Regions from separate parts of the Homo sapiens genome. Here region 2 is linked to region 1. Evidence: fine-mapped expression QTL. A gene starts in region 1. The other region holds a variant in brackets. All regions are shown on one strand. Distances are from middle to middle. Region 1 holds the start of C10orf105 (chromosome 10 open reading frame 105). Region 2 overlaps CDH23 (cadherin related 23).

Region 1 (8,000 bases):
TGGGTCTGCCCCTTCTTGTCTCACCACCTCTCACTTCAGCCCTGTGGTGTGCATGGGAGCTGCCATTTTCTTCCTGACCCTGCCAAGACGGTCAGAGGGGATTGGTCCAGGACTGGGTGCCTGATCAAAGCTGAGCCAATCACATTCTTCTCTGGGATTGTTGACCTTGGGCCCAGAGAGATTGAGTCAGTCTTTCTAGCAGTAAAATGTGGGAATATCAACAGCCCCTCTCTTGCACATCCCTGGGCCCCACTTCCCACCACTCTCTCCTCTTAACTGCCCTGGCACACTGGTCTCCTGGCTGTTTCTTGAACACCAAGCGTGTGCTGGCCTCATGGCTTCTGCCCTGGCTGTTTCCTGGCAAGCTCTCCCTCCAGATATTTGCATGTTCATGCCCTCATCTCCTTCAGGTCTTTGTTCAAATATCTTCTCCTAAGACCCTCCCTGAGCACTGCATATGAAATTATAGCCCCCACTCCAATGTCCTGGCCTTCCCTACCCCTGGTCACCCTCTGATACATGCTATCTTTGCTTATTGCCCATATCCCCACAGGAAGAAAGGGCTTTGTGCACTGCGATATCCCTGGTCTCTGGAACAACAATCCTGGCACACAGTAGGGTCAAATATGTGAACGACTTAGGAGCAGAGCTCCAGGGAGAGGAACTAGGCTGACACTCAGTAAGCACGAATGCAGGACACATACAACATTCAGCCCTGGTTTGCATCCTTGGGCCCAGTTATTCCAGGAGCCCATCTGTGCCTCGCTCCCTGTTTGATTTTTCCTTTGATCCTGTAGGGTATCCCAGTATTGCTACAGTACACTTCTCCTTCTGCCTAGATTATTATTATTTTTTTTGTAGAGACAGGGTCTTGCTATATTGCCCAGGCTGGTCTCGAACTCCTGAGCTCAAGCAATCCTCCCGCCTTGGCTTCCCAAAGTGGTGGGATTACAGGCATGAGCCACCATGTCTGGCCCTGCCTAAGATAATATAGAATGGATTTTCTTTCTTGCCACCCGAAGCCCTAATGTAGGCTTTCCTATCGTTGCTCACTGGACAAAACTGCAGAGAAGATGGGGATGGGTTCCTGCTAGCAAAGATCAAGAAAGCAGTGAAGGTGGGATTGGCTGAAGGTTTCCAAAGGAGGGAGCTGGGTTTGGAAGGATGGAGGAAACCTGGCTTAGCAGAGAAGGTTGGGAAGAACATTTGTGCTGGGAAACAGTGTTAGCTGAAGTAGAGGCAGCTGGGGAGGCTAAGGAAGGAACTAGGACCCCAGTCTGGAGTGAAGGGCTCATGCAGGGACAGCAGAGGGCTGTGGTTGGAAGAGTGGAATGACAGCCTCAATCAGCAGCACTGATGCCCTGGAACCTCCACAGGACAGGGAGTATAGACATGGTGGTATGAAGGCAGAGCGAGGAGCCTGTAGCAGGCGCTGGCCTCGATGCACATCCGGGCACTGCGGTAAGTGTGTCTAAGGATTCTGATGAGCATGTTGATGGTGGGGAGGAGGACGAGTACACTGGAGCAAAAAGAACAAGGGCCCTGGGTCAGGCACACCCAAGCATGAATTTAGGCTTTGTCACTTACTCTCTATGGCACTATGGATAAGTACTTTAGCCCCCTTGAGCCTCAGTTTTCTCATCTCTAGACTGGGCACAATGATGACCAGCCTTGCAGGGTTGAGGGGAAGATCAGAAGTCATCTTGCAAAGCGTCTTGGCTGGTGCCTAGCATGGGGATGTGTGGTGAAGGTCAACATGAGTGATGCCACCTTCTCCAGAGAGCCCTCTGGATTTATGCCAGAGCTGGGGATGGCTGGATTGCCCCTTGCCGTGCAGTTCTTTCTCTCTCCATTCCCTGAGAAACCTTAGGAGCTGGCAGGTGGAGGGATGTAACAGGGTGCTTCAATTGTCCAGATCTGGAAGGGCTCAGGATGGTGAAGAGAGCCACGTTGCCCAGAGCATGCCCTTGCATGCCTATCCATGGTGAGATTTCCTTGATGCCTCCCTGCTCCAGCAGCCTGCACCACCCTGGAAGCTTTGTCTTCTGTCATCTCAGGAGGAATGGGGGCCACAGATGAAGTGTTCAGTTGGTTTCAGGAGAGGAAGTTAAGGAAAATGAAGGCAGTGAATGCTGTGATGGAAGGTGCAGGAATCCCAATGGGGACTCTGGGCATTGAAAACACCTTTGGGCCGGATGCTTTGCCTACCCTGGATGCCTACTGCCTGCCCCTGCCCACCCAGCACAGGGGAAACACCAAGTCCCCCACCACTCACTTGCTGGGTGCCCCTGGGCAGGTCACACCTCTCTGGGCCTCAGTTTGGTCATCTGAGAGAAGACGGGGGCTCTTTTCTCTCAGAAGAGGAGTTAGATGACCCCTGAGGACCTCTCCAGCTTTAACAGTCCATAGGAAATCTCTTGTCCATCTTGGGGTTGGCAGACAGTGCCTCTTTTTATGGGCAAGGGCAGGAGGGAACAGCTAAAAACCAGAAACTGGGGCTCCAAAAAAGGGAATGGGTCTGAGGCTCAGGTCTTGGACAGGGCCATGACTCCTGTCTTGAGTTGCATTTCTGGGAGCTTGGAGGTCCCTGGTGGGGAAGCTGCCAAAGACTTGGGCTCCTAAGCAGGCAGCTGGTTGTCAGGGAAGCTCTGGCTTCTGGGGAGAAAGAAGGCTGGGGGAGGGAAGTGTGTGTGTGTGTGTGTGTGTGTGTGTGTTTTGGAAAGAGCCTCCAGTGGAGGTCTCCCGTGGCCCACCCGCACTGTGGGGAGCATGGCCTTGGAGGTCCGTCAGTCCTATGCTTTCTGCCCTGGGATCCCCCTGACCTTTGAAGATGCCCCTCACCCCTCGCTTCTGTAGCCAGACACCTTCAAAGGGAAGGTGCTTTTCTACAAGCTGAGGGAAAAGCCTGGAAGGAATGGGGCCCAGGGACGCTGCAGGAGGGGCCTCAGGGGCTGCCAGGGACCAGCACTCTCCCTGCTCCCCTCCTGCCATGGCTTGTAGCCCCTCTCCAGGGTAACCTGGTGGCTGGCAGGCACTGAATAGCGAACCTCTGGCTGCCGCCGACCATACCATTCAAACTTCCGACAGGGGAAGGTGAGCGCCATGGGGCCGCAGAGGCAGTAAAACCCTCCCCCTGCGTCTCCCCAGAGTCTTCCACCCCTGAGAGGGCTCCAAGGAGACAGGCTGGAGAGAGGCGGTGGGAAGGCCAGGGGGCATCCCAGAGTCTCTGGACAGCTCCCCTCTCCCTCTTCCCAACCCAGTTGCCATCCCTACTCCCTTAGCTATCCCCTCCCCCAAGGCAGGGCCCAAACTCTTCTAGACAAAGCCAGGTCCAGCTGGGGAGTGACGGGGAGGCCACTCTGCTGGCCAGGCTGACCGAGGGCTGCAGGGCACAGCAGAGCCTGGCAGGGCTGGGGTCACAGGCACTGCCCAGGGCTCCTTGGGCCTCCCTTCCACAGCTGAGAAGACCTCTCCACGGAGCTCCGGACGGCTGGGGTCTGGCTCTGAGGTCAGTGCTTGGGGGACTGCAGGAGAAGGCTTGGAGAGGGAAGTGTGGTGGAGACCCTTGCTGGGGACTCCTGGGAGAATGTGAGGGTATGCTCAGACCTAGGCAGTCCTCTGGTTCTGTAGAGAGGGGAAACAAGGCCCAGTAAGGGGTAGGGACTAGCCCGAGGCCACACAGCAGTCTTCTCTGCCCACAGCAGGTCCTGCTCTGTGGAACTCCAAGGGAAGAGGAGGGTCCTAGACTGAGCTTGCAGAGATATGTCCAGAGCAGGGCCCGCTGGTGCACCCTGGCCCCAGTGGGAAGGGAGTGGCTTCAACTGCCCTCCAGATGATTCCTGGCCTTGGTCCGGGCAAGGCATCCTCTCCCAGTACTAGCTGGCCTTTGCTGGTTGGTCAGTAGCCGGGTGTCAAGGGGCCTGGCAGCTGGACTTGCCTCGTGCTCCAGGAAGGGTGTTGTGTTGTTTTCAAGCACTTAGGAATCTCTCGTTGCCACAGGAACTACTCAGATGCTAATTACAACTCCACTTATTTTTTTTTTATTTTTTATTTTTTTGAGACAGAGTGTTGCTCTGTCGCTCAGGCTGTAGCGCAGTGGCATGATTCTAGCTCGCTGTAGCCTCAAACTTTTGGGCTCAAATGATCCTTCTGCCTCAGCCTCCTGAGTAGCTGGGGCCACAGGCACATACTACCACACCTGGCTAATTAAAAAACCTTTTTTTTTTTTCTTTCAGAAATGAAGACTCACTATGTTGCCCAGGCTGTTCTCAAACTCCTGGGCTCAAGTGATCCTCCTGCCTTGGCCTCCCAAAGTGCTGGGATTACAGGTGAGAGCCAACACGCCTGGCCTCACTTATTTTTTAAATTAAAGCAGGTCCCAAGGCCTGAAGCCTGGATCCTATTTGCTAGCCCAGTAGGGTCTCCAGATTCCTTTGAAGGCCTTGAAATAACATTAGAACTAGTAGGATTGAGGCATCTCCCATTTCAGACTGCCCTTTTCTTACTCCTGGCCAAGCATTGTCCAGGGTAGGAGAGAGGGATGGCTGATTTTCTCCCCACGGGAATGAGCGGTGGGCACACCCCATCCCTCCTCCCTGCTCAGACTCAAGGAAAGGCCAACCCATGCACAGCTGCCCAGCCAGAGTGCTCTCTAGGCCTGATGCCGCAAAGGCGGAGGCCCTGGGCAGCTAGACGGGCATCACACTTTCCAGCCAGGCACTGGGAGGGGTCGTTTTCTGCCTGGAAGTGCTGGGAGGGGTGGTGGTGGGGAATGGGTGGGAGGTGGGGTGCTCTGCATGCCCTCAGTTGGCTGGGCGCAGGGAGCCAGGAGTGAGGTCCTGCGGCTGCTGGTGAGTGCCTGGGGTAGGGACAGGAGTCCCTCGGGTGGGGAACTAGGTGGCCCACTCCCCTCCCCACTACCTGTGGCAGGGTTTCTCTGAGCGTGACCTGACATCTTTCCTCCTCCTGAGCTTCCGTGCTAGAAACTCAACTGTTATCTAAGCTGCAAGCTGGGAAGGAGGAAAATCTGCTATCCCCCACCCTCATGAAAAGGAAAGACCCCAAGGTTAAAGGGAAATCATGACTTTTTATCAGACCCCCTGGGATTGCTTGTCCACGTCAGTAGAATTTAAATATCACACATGCTGACCTGCAAGCTGGACGTCCTCTGCTTATGTGTTTGGTTTGGCCTGTGTAGTGTTTCAAATATTTGAAAATTCATTTCACATTATTTTGAAATCAAGTTTATTTGGCTTTTGCTGTGTTCTCCCCCACCCCACCTCTCTTCTTTCTTGCCTTCAACAAATTTGAATTAGCTGCCAACATTTAAACGTCTAGAATGTTTGCCTTTAAAAAAATCCAGATTTCTGGCTTCTCTTGGGAAACTGACAGAGCTGACCACACTGGGCCTGCACTCCGGCACTGACAGCACCATTCTGGGCTGAGGCCCCTCCACTTCCTTGAGAGGGCCCAGCCAGTGCTCTCCAGGTGGCCCTGCTCATCTGTACCCTCTGGTCATGTGTTATCTGCTGGCCAGGATCTGTGAGCATTTTTATTACAACCCCAGACATATTGAGCCAAAAGCTCAGCCTGGTTTTCCATCGACAAGGACCGTCTGCTGCACTGCGTCTAATGGGATGATCTTCAGTGGGAAAGGAAATGCCCTGTCAGGTGTATGATGTCCCTGGGGGGTTTCCAGCCCCCTTGTCAACTCCTTGTGGGTTTATTTCCCACCTGTTCCCAGAGCAGCTCACTGAGCTCCGAAAGGGCTGGGGGCCAGAGGGGTGGCAAGGCCATGGGGCCAGGAGTCAGGAGACCTGCTTCTGACCTTCACTTGGCCATTGGCTCACAATGTGGCCTTGGCCTTCCCACCACCAAGCTGCCCCACCCCACCCTACTGTGACCCACAATGCAGCCAGCCAAGCCTTCCCAAGGAGTGAGCTCTGGCTTGTCACTCCCCACCTCTAAAACCTTCACTGGCTCCCTAATGCCAAATCCCCTCTTCGGACCTCAGTTTCCCACCTGTCGTGGGAGCAAGTTGGACTGCATGGGGAAGCAGTCACAGGAATCCCCACGGGGCCAGGCAGGTGAAATAAGGTGTGTGGTGGGCCTGTGGGGGAGGGTGGGGAGCTGGAGGTCAGTGCCCTGTCTACAGGGGGCAGCGGCTGCTCAGCCCCAGACACAGGGATGAGGCAGGAACATGGGCCAATGCCAGTGGTGAAATTCTGACATTTCAAGAGAATTCAGGCACCCATATATTTTTGTGAAATCTGTTATTATTTTGAAAATATTCATAATTACATTGATAAAAACATGGCAAGGACCCAACTAAACACACCCGTGGGCCCCCAGTTTGCAGCTTTGGTATTAGATTACTGCTAGGGACCCTGGCAGCTGCGGCCTCTTACCATCCATAACTCGTTCCTGGCCACAGAGCAAGTTATTGACAGAGTTGGTCTTAAGTTTCCAGGCCTAAGACCCTGTGATGATTCATGAGGATTGATTTGAAAATGCGGACAGGCCACCGCCCTCTTGTCTGCATGGCAGATGGGCACAGGGTGGAACAGGAAGAGGGCCTGAGCTTGGGCCCAGCTCCATCACTGCTCAGCTGTGTGTACACTTAGACTTGTGATGTCTCTGGACCTTGCTGTCTTAACCTGTGATGTGGCCATGATGCTGTCCAGTTTAACAGTGCCTTGCCCCCATCCACATTCCCTAGGTAAGTCTTCCCTATACCCGCTGCCCTGGGTCCAGCTGATCTGCCTTTGAGCTTCTGTCTTGTTGCTGTTGCAGGAGCCATGAGCACAGAGGGCCCCAGCCTCGCCAGCTCCCCAGCCATCAGCCCCCTCGCCTTTCTCTCAGCTCCCGTCACTCCCGGGACCCTTGCAGAGGCAACTGACCCCCTCCCCATGCTCATCGCCCTGGCCTGCATCTTCCTCCTGCTGGCCACCTGTCTGCTGTTCATGACGCTCTGCAAGCCGGCCGCGCTGGACCCGAGCCGCCGCAGGGCTCACGAGTGCATGCCCCACCACCCTGGGAGCCCCAGTGAGCCCCAGCTCCGGCTCTGGAAGCGCCTGGGCTCCTTGCGCCTCTCCCTGCACAGCTTCCGCCATGGCCGGCCCACCGTCCCTCGACAGCCCCTGCCGGGCCCCGAGGACAACCGCAGCCACTGTGACTACATGGAATCTACCAAGATGTAATGGGGTGTCCACAAACATGCCCCCACATCCCCCTAGGTCTACCTGTAGATCCTCCTGCTTCAGAGACCGGTGCTGCAGGCTGCAGGAAGACAGTGGCCCAAGCAGTCTGGGACACACACTCACCCCCCGAAGCTCCTTGCATGCCCAGGCCAGCGCCCTTTCCCAAAGATGATCCTCAGAAGAGCACCTTCCTCTCTGCAGACCCCCTCGCTGCTGCTTGATGAAAGACTTCTGGTCAAGAGATGTGCACTCGTGGTCATCTGGGCCTTTGGCCTGAGGCTCCACAGGGTACAACCTGGGGCTCGTAACCACCTCCTAGAAGCAGCACCCTCGCTCGCCACAGAAGCCTTGCCCTCCAGGTGCCAAAGCCCAGCATGGAGAAGTTGCCAAATGGCAAAGGTTCCCTTTAGTCAAGTGAAATGCTCAGCCTACACCGGGGCCAAGACACTGTCCTGGCATCTGTGCTGGCCCAGTGCTGGGGCAAAACCTCGGGGCTCTCTTCCTTGGGTTTCCCGGGTGCTGCCAGCATCTGCCTGGTGCCCTGTGGGAGCAGCTGCCTCCCTCCTGGTGGAACAGATGCCTGGGTGCCAGCTGGGAGGAGGAGCAAACAGGGCTCTCCAAGCATGGTCTTGGCAGCCGTCTTGGTGGCCCCTCTTCAGGGCACCCACGTTGGGATCAATCAGGAAGGGATTGAAGATGATCGAGGAGGCTCCCTTCAGAGGCCAGGGCGGGTGCTGTGACAGAGTGGCAAGAGGCAGGGCATTTCCAGCAGCTGGAGGTGATGCCACCTGGACTCGGAGG
Region 2 (8,000 bases), 31 kb before region 1:
ATGGCTGGGGGTGGGTGGGGGCAGGTAAAGGGCTTGGAACAGAAGAGCAACGCTGGGCAGCAGGGCAGGGGGAGCAGGTGTTGCTGTGCCCTCCCTGGTGGAAGGCTGGCCCAGAGAGCCTGCTCAGGAATGAGGCACTCTCAGGAAAAAAAGAAAAGGAAAGGGCTGGGAGCCTTGAGGACGGCAGTTTGCTGGAGAGGCCAACAGGTGTGGATTTCCATCCTGCTTTGGACTGAGCCTCAGTTTCCCCAGCTCTAAAATGGGACCAACAACCCTCACCCCAAAGGGTGGCACAGAGGATGAGATGAGGGAATACCCGTGTGCACCTGCACGAAGCCTGACCCATGAGTCGGCTGTAAGCAATAGCCATGGTTTGAATAGATTTCAGGAACTTTTGGGTAACTTCCCTGTGTTTGTTCTGTTGTTGTGCCCCTCCCCCACCATCTGTTTCCCCATCGTAATCAGCAGTAAATCTCCTTAAAACGAGAAGCATCTGTGGGAGGACATGGGGTGCTGCATGAAAGAGGGAAGTTGGGGTCACTGCATCTAATTGGTGGCCAGTTTGGGGGGTGGGGTGTCCCAAGGCTGAGGCAAGCGGCAGCAACTTGGATGAGAAGCAGAAAGTGAGTGAAGTGGCTGGGAAGTGATCGGGGACTTGCACCTTGTAAGGTTTCCCTGAGAGATGTCCCCTAGAATGCCACCCTATTAGGCAATGTAGGGGATAGGACAGAGAGGACCAGGAGCCCTCTAATTAGGAACTGACCTTAAACACTCCCACCCAGTAAGTCATGGCTAAAGACCAGAACCTGGCAAATGTTCAAACAAGAGACACCAGTTAGCAAATTCAAGAGTTGACCTTTGCTCGATACTTAAATCCTGAAGGTCTGACACTGTGTAAGTCAAGCCATAGGAGAAAGCGCTGGCTGCCTTTGGTCTCCTGATGGCAGATAGCGTTCTTACACTCCTGGAAAATGCAGATAGAGTTTCATTTATCAGTCGTCAAAATGGGCCCCTCATGGAGGCCCCATCTGCTGGACAGACACGCAGATCGCTTGCTGGACAGCACCCATGTGAAAAGAAATGGAGTCCGGAGCTGTGCAGGGCCCTCCTGGGCTCGCTCCTGTTCCCTGCAGGGCATCTGCCAGCAGGGGCAGGGATGTTGTATGGGGAAGCCTTCCCTTCCATGACCAGCTTCTCTGTCTGTCTGTCCCTAGGTGCCCAGGAGCTGGTGCGGATGGACAGGTAAGGCCCATGGAGACCTTCTTGAGAAAACTTCCTGGGCCGGCTATCCAGGAAGAGATACTTCTGTGCAGTAGGGGCCCTGTTTAGCTGCCTAGAGCAGCTGGTCAGAAGAGCCTCTGCCATCTGCTGCTGAAGCCTGCACATCTGTGCAGATTGGCTGTTCTCCTGCCACCCCGACTCAGCAGGCTGAGCTCTGATTCTGCTCAGATGTGTCATGCACCCACCTTCGGGTCTCAGTGGTCAGCCTGGGCCAGGATGGGGACAGGGAGGAAGCACTGTCTGGGGCAGACAGTGAGACATGCAAAGGAGGCCAGCGGGCCCAGCCCCAGCCACAGCCCTTGAGCTGTGCCTCCTGCCCGCAGAGAACTCCAAGGAGAAAGCTGTTAGGCCGCTGCAGGCCACAAGGGCAGAGGCTGAGGGGTCCCAGAGTGGTGCAGTGGGCTGGGTCTAGGGGCAGAGGGGATGGGGACTGTGTATTGGTGTGCTCTGGGCAGGAAGCTGCCATGCAGCCTGGCCTGGAGGGTGTGTTCAGGGAACCCAAGTTCCTGCCCCGGTACCTGCAACACCAAACACAAAGCTCCTCTAGGTGTTTGAAAGGGATGATCTTCAAGACAGGTTGAAGGAAGTCCTGCTTGCAACTCATCTAGAATCTAAGAGTTGCAGGGGTCTTCAGAAGTTATCCCACTCCCAACTGGGAAGAGAAGAGAACCCCTCCCCTCAGCTCAAGACAGGCTTTGGGGATGTTCGATCCTAATGCCATCAACTCTATTGACCAAAGAGAAACTTGTCCCCAAATTCCTGAGGCTGAAGTTCTAGAAGTGTCTGTGATTTTTGGCTTCCTGGCTGTGCCCGGGGTTGATGGTCAGACCACAGGGAGGAGCTGGGGTCTGTTCTGGTGGGCCCTGATGCCCTCAGCTCAGGACAGGTGGGCAGGTGCAGCCCATGGCCTTTGCTCTGTGGGCCTGGCTCCTGCCTTCTTGCTTGGAGATGCTGCTGAGGCTTGGGGATGGGGATGTAGGTGAGAGAAAGGGAGGAGAGAAAAACTGGGGGCAGGGAGGGCAGAGTTCACGCTCCGGACAGCACAGATGACCTTCCATTCTGGTTCTGTGGCAGCAACATTCAAGGGATTGAAAACCCCGGCTTTGAAGCCTCACCACCTGCCCAGGGGATACCCGAGGCCAAAGTCAGGCACCCCCTGTCCTATGTGGCCCAGCGGCAGCCTTCTGAGTCTGGGCGGCATCTGCTTTCGGAGCCCAGCACCCCCCTGTCTCCTCCAGGCCCCGGAGACGTCTTCTTCCCATCCCTGGGTAAGTGTTTCCTGACCTTCACAGCACGATGACCTGTAAGGTCATGACCTCATGGCCTGCAGGGCATCGGCCTCACTCCCTGCCCTCCCTGAAGAGTTCCACGGCCTCACGGGGTGGGGTTGAGGGTGAGGGACAGAGGGGCCCCCATTCACCTCCCTGAAGAGTTCCACGGCCTCACGGGGTGGGGTTGAGGGTGAGGGACAGAGGGGCCCCCATTCACCTCCCTGAAGAGTTCCACGGCCTCACGGGGTGGGGTTGAGGGTGAGGGACAGAGGGGCCCCCATTCACCTCCCTGAAGAGTTCCACGGCCTCACGGGGTGGGGTTGAGGGTGAGGGGCAGAGGGGCCCCGTTCACTTTGCTTCTCCTTTTCTTGCAGACCCTGTCCCTGACTCTCCAAACTTTGAGGTCATCTAGCCCAGCTGGGGGACAGTGGGCTGTTGTGGCTGGGTCTGGGGCAGGTGCATTTGAGCCAGGGCTGGCTCTGTGAGTGGCCTCCTTGGCCTCGGCCCTGGTTCCCTCCCTCCTGCTCTGGGCTCAGATACTGTGACATCCCAGAAGCCCAGCCCCTCAACCCCTCTGGATGCTACATGGGGATGCTGGACGGCTCAGCCCCTGTTCCAAGGATTTTGGGGTGCTGAGATTCTCCCCTAGAGACCTGAAATTCACCAGCTACAGATGCCAAATGACTTACATCTTAAGAAGTCTCAGAACGTCCAGCCCTTCAGCAGCTCTCGTTCTGAGACATGAGCCTTGGGATGTGGCAGCATCAGTGGGACAAGATGGACACTGGGCCACCCTCCCAGGCACCAGACACAGGGCACGGTGGAGAGACTTCTCCCCCGTGGCCGCCTTGGCTCCCCCGTTTTGCCCGAGGCTGCTCTTCTGTCAGACTTCCTCTTTGTACCACAGTGGCTCTGGGGCCAGGCCTGCCTGCCCACTGGCCATCGCCACCTT[C/A]CCCAGCTGCCTCCTACCAGCAGTTTCTCTGAAGATCTGTCAACAGGTTAAGTCAATCTGGGGCTTCCACTGCCTGCATTCCAGTCCCCAGAGCTTGGTGGTCCCGAAACGGGAAGTACATATTGGGGCATGGTGGCCTCCGTGAGCAAATGGTGTCTTGGGCAATCTGAGGCCAGGACAGATGTTGCCCCACCCACTGGAGATGGTGCTGAGGGAGGTGGGTGGGGCCTTCTGGGAAGGTGAGTGGAGAGGGGCACCTGCCCCCCGCCCTCCCCATCCCCTACTCCCACTGCTCAGCGCGGGCCATTGCAAGGGTGCCACACAATGTCTTGTCCACCCTGGGACACTTCTGAGTATGAAGCGGGATGCTATTAAAAACTACATGGGGAAACAGGTGCAAACCCTGGAGATGGATTGTAAGAGCCAGTTTAAATCTGCACTCTGCTGCTCCTCCCCCACCCCCACCTTCCACTCCATACAATCTGGGCCTGGTGGAGTCTTCGCTTCAGAGCCATTCGGCCAGGTGCGGGTGATGTTCCCATCTCCTGCTTGTGGGCATGCCCTGGCTTTGTTTTTATACACATAGGCAAGGTGAGTCCTCTGTGGAATTGTGATTGAAGGATTTTAAAGCAGGGGAGGAGAGTAGGGGGCATCTCTGTACACTCTGGGGGTAAAACAGGGAAGGCAGTGCCTGAGCATGGGGACAGGTGAGGTGGGGCTGGGCAGACCCCCTGTAGCGTTTAGCAGGATGGGGGCCCCAGGTACTGTGGAGAGCATAGTCCAGCCTGGGCATTTGTCTCCTAGCAGCCTACACTGGCTCTGCTGAGCTGGGCCTGGGTGCTGAAAGCCAGGATTTGGGGCTAGGCGGGAAGATGTTCGCCCAATTGCTTGGGGGGTTGGGGGGATGGAAAAGGGGAGCACCTCTAGGCTGCCTGGCAGCAGTGAGCCCTGGGCCTGTGGCTACAGCCAGGGAACCCCACCTGGACACATGGCCCTGCTTCTAAGCCCCCCAGTTAGGCCCAAAGGAATGGTCCACTGAGGGCCTCCTGCTCTGCCTGGGCTGGGCCAGGGGCTTTGAGGAGAGGGTAAACATAGGCCCGGAGATGGGGCTGACACCTCGAGTGGCCAGAATATGCCCAAACCCCGGCTTCTCCCTTGTCCCTAGGCAGAGGGGGGTCCCTTCTTTTGTTCCCTCTGGTCACCACAATGCTTGATGCCAGCTGCCATAGGAAGAGGGTGCTGGCTGGCCATGGTGGCACACACCTGTCCTCCCAGCACTTTGCAGGGCTGAGGTGGAAGGACCGCTTAAGCCCAGGTGTTCAAGGCTGCTGTGAGCTGTGTTCGAGCCACTACACTCCAGCCTGGGGACGGAGCAAAACTTTGCCTCAAAACAAATTTTAAAAAGAAAGAAAGAAGGAAAGAGGGTATGTTTTTCACAATTCATGGGGGCCTGCATGGCAGGAGTGGGGACAGGACACCTGCTGTTCCTGGAGTCGAAGGACAAGCCCACAGCCCAGATTCCGGTTCTCCCAACTCAGGAAGAGCATGCCCTGCCCTCTGGGGAGGCTGGCCTGGCCCCAGCCCTCAGCTGCTGACCTTGAGGCAGAGACAACTTCTAAGAATTTGGCTGCCAGACCCCAGGCCTGGCTGCTGCTGTGTGGAGAGGGAGGCGGCCCGCAGCAGAACAGCCACCGCACTTCCTCCTCAGCTTCCTCTGGTGCGGCCCTGCCCTCTCTTCTCTGGACCCTTTTACAACTGAACGCATCTGGGCTTCGTGGTTTCCTGTTTTCAGCGAAATTTACTCTGAGCTCCCAGTTCCATCTTCATCCATGGCCACAGGCCCTGCCTACAACGCACTAGGGACGTCCCTCCCTGCTGCTGCTGGGGAGGGGCAGGCTGCTGGAGCCGCCCTCTGAGTTGCCCGGGATGGTAGTGCCTCTGATGCCAGCCCTGGTGGCTGTGGGCTGGGGTGCATGGGAGAGCTGGGTGCGAGAACATGGCGCCTCCAGGGGGCGGGAGGAGCACTAGGGGCTGGGGCAGGAGGCTCCTGGAGCGCTGGATTCGTGGCACAGTCTGAGGCCCTGAGAGGGAAATCCATGCTTTTAAGAACTAATTCATTGTTAGGAGATCAATCAGGAATTAGGGGCCATCTTACCTATCTCCTGACATTCACAGTTTAATAGAGACTTCCTGCCTTTATTCCCTCCCAGGGAGAGGCTGAAGGAATGGAATTGAAAGCACCATTTGGAGGGTTTTGCTGACACAGCGGGGACTGCTCAGCACTCCCTAAAAACACACCATGGAGGCCACTGGTGACTGCTGGTGGGCAGGCTGGCCCTGCCTGGGGGAGTCCGTGGCGATGGGCGCTGGGGTGGAGGTGCAGGAGCCCCAGGACCTGCTTTTCAAAAGACTTCTGCCTGACCAGAGCTCCCACTACATGCAGTGGCCCAGGGCAGAGGGGCTGATACATGGCCTTTTTCAGGGGGTGCTCCTCGCGGGGTGGACTTGGGAGTGTGCAGTGGGACAGGGGGCTGCAGGGGTCCTGCCACCACCGAGCACCAACTTGGCCCCTGGGGTCCTGCCTCATGAATGAGGCCTTCCCCAGGGCTGGCCTGACTGTGCTGGGGGCTGGGTTAACGTTTTCTCAGGGAACCACAATGCACGAAAGAGGAACTGGGGTTGCTAACCAGGATGCTGGGAACAAAGGCCTCTTGAAGCCCAGCCACAGCCCAGCTGAGCATGAGGCCCAGCCCATAGACGGCACAGGCCACCTGGCCCATTCCCTGGGCATTCCCTGCTTTGCATTGCTGCTTCTCTTCACCCCATGGAGGCTATGTCACCCTAACTATCCTGGAATGTGTTGAGAGGGATTCTGAATGATCAATATAGCTTGGTGAGACAGTGCCGAGATAGATAGCCATGTCTGCCTTGGGCACGGGAGAGGGAAGTGGCAGCATGCATGCTGTTTCTTGGCCTTTTCTGTTAGAATACTTGGTGCTTTCCAACACACTTTCACATGTGTTGTAACTTGTTTGATCCACCCCCTTCCCTGAAAATCCTGGGAGGTTTTATTGCTGCCATTTAACACAGAGGGCAATAGAGGTTCTGAAAGGTCTGTGTCTTGTCAAAACAAGTAAACGGTGGAACTACGACTAAACCCTGGGTCTCCTGCTTCCTCCTCACTGAATGGATTGGTATTATGGGCCAGGGCCTGGCTTGGCCTTCACCTTGGACTTGCTTAGAGCACATACAAGGGCTCTGGGAGATGAACTTGTGCCCACAGGTCCAGGGCTCCACTGTACTGCACACCAGAAACGTTCCTATCTGTGCTCTGCCTGCCCTGGCCTGGGCCTTCTTCTGGGTCCAGAAGACGCTGCTGCTGATGGGTAGGCTCCTTCCATATCAGCTCCTGCCACTCCCTTTTCTGCCTGCCAACTGTGGAGCTAGAGGACTCCTGATAGGCACAGTGGCCCATGCACCCCTCTTGCTTGCATTAGGGGATGGGGAAGGGAGAAACCCTCAGCAGCTGAGCCCCAGGGTCTCTTGGAGGAACTTAGCCAGTTGTATGTGGAGCATCTGGGCAGCTGTGGAACATCCCTCAAGAAGCCAGGCCAAGGGAAGGGTCTGGATGTACTTGTGCTGGGTCAGGGAAGGCCAGCCTTCTTGGTGCCACAGAGGGTGAGGGCCAGGCTGGGACCTTCTGATCTCAAGCCAGGGGAAGCAGAGTTCACAATAGCAGGGTCCAAGTCTAATAAACAGAAGGGGCCTCTGCTCTAAAGACATGAGGTGTACTGCCAAGAGCAGTGTCCCCAGCTCATAGACCGTCACGGGGCCGCTGCTGGGGACTTGCATACCAGAAGGGGGCGGTGGGAGATTTCTGTCCTTCTGCCTGGATAGGTGACTTCTGCAGGTCCTCACCAGCCTGAGAAGCCAGGGCTTCTTATCTGGAATAGTAGTATCGGTTGGCTGCAATTCACGTGGCAGGGAGGCCACAGTTAGGCCCTCCCTCCCTCTCCACCCCACTGCCAAGTGCCTCTGAGGTTGGGCTAACTCCTGACCTCCCAGTTACCTTCCGCCCTTCCTCCCTGGGCCCAGCTCTTCCTTTGCAGGGGCCTCCCTGACAACCACTTAAACCCCTCCCCCAAGCCTGGCCTGTCTTCCCATGGCCTGGAGCTAGGCAGGGGCTGAGGCTCCACAATGACTCCCCCGGCCAGTGGCACACCATTGTGTGGCGGGCCTGGGTCTGGCCCAGATACCCCTTGCAGCACAGCTGTTCCGAGTTCGGGTGATATGGGCTGAGGCCGGATGGGGGTGGCCTAGGCTGTTTGCAGGAATGTCCAGCTCTCAGGAACCTGGGGGGACGAGGGTCTCAGGGAGAAAAGTAGAGCTGGAGGGACTCAGAGAATTTCTCTTGGCTCTGGGGAGGGTCTTAGCAGCCAAATCTCAGGCCCCCTGCTTAGGGAGCCACATCTTTCAAAACAGGGATGCAAATGATG

Evidence for each region.
Region 2: its variant is fine-mapped to the expression of C10orf105 in whole blood (INTERVAL, PIP above 0.99).

Annotation. Positions count from the first base shown.
Region 1 is chr10:71,715,135-71,723,134 of GRCh38, reverse strand. It overlaps C10orf105 (chromosome 10 open reading frame 105), which reads left to right and starts at 3,357. Exons shown (of 2, transcript NM_001164375.3): 1 at 3,357-3,508; 2 at 6,793-8,000. The coding sequence starts at 6,798. The coding sequence ends at 7,199. The region is part of intron 28 of CDH23 (cadherin related 23); the gene reads right to left. RefSeq lists an enhancer at 3,220-3,968 and a silencer at 5,885-6,082.
Region 2 is chr10:71,746,217-71,754,216 of GRCh38, reverse strand. The region is part of intron 38 of CDH23 (cadherin related 23); the gene reads right to left. It overlaps VSIR (V-set immunoregulatory receptor), which reads left to right. Exons shown (of 7, transcript NM_022153.2): 5 at 1,215-1,242; 6 at 2,356-2,549; 7 at 2,927-6,661. The coding sequence ends at 2,964. Among named protein-coding and RNA genes, the nearest start is that of VSIR, 23 kb to the left of the region's middle. RefSeq lists enhancers at 5,245-5,374, 5,575-5,624, 6,010-6,219. The variant C/A (reference allele first, on the strand shown) is at 3,505.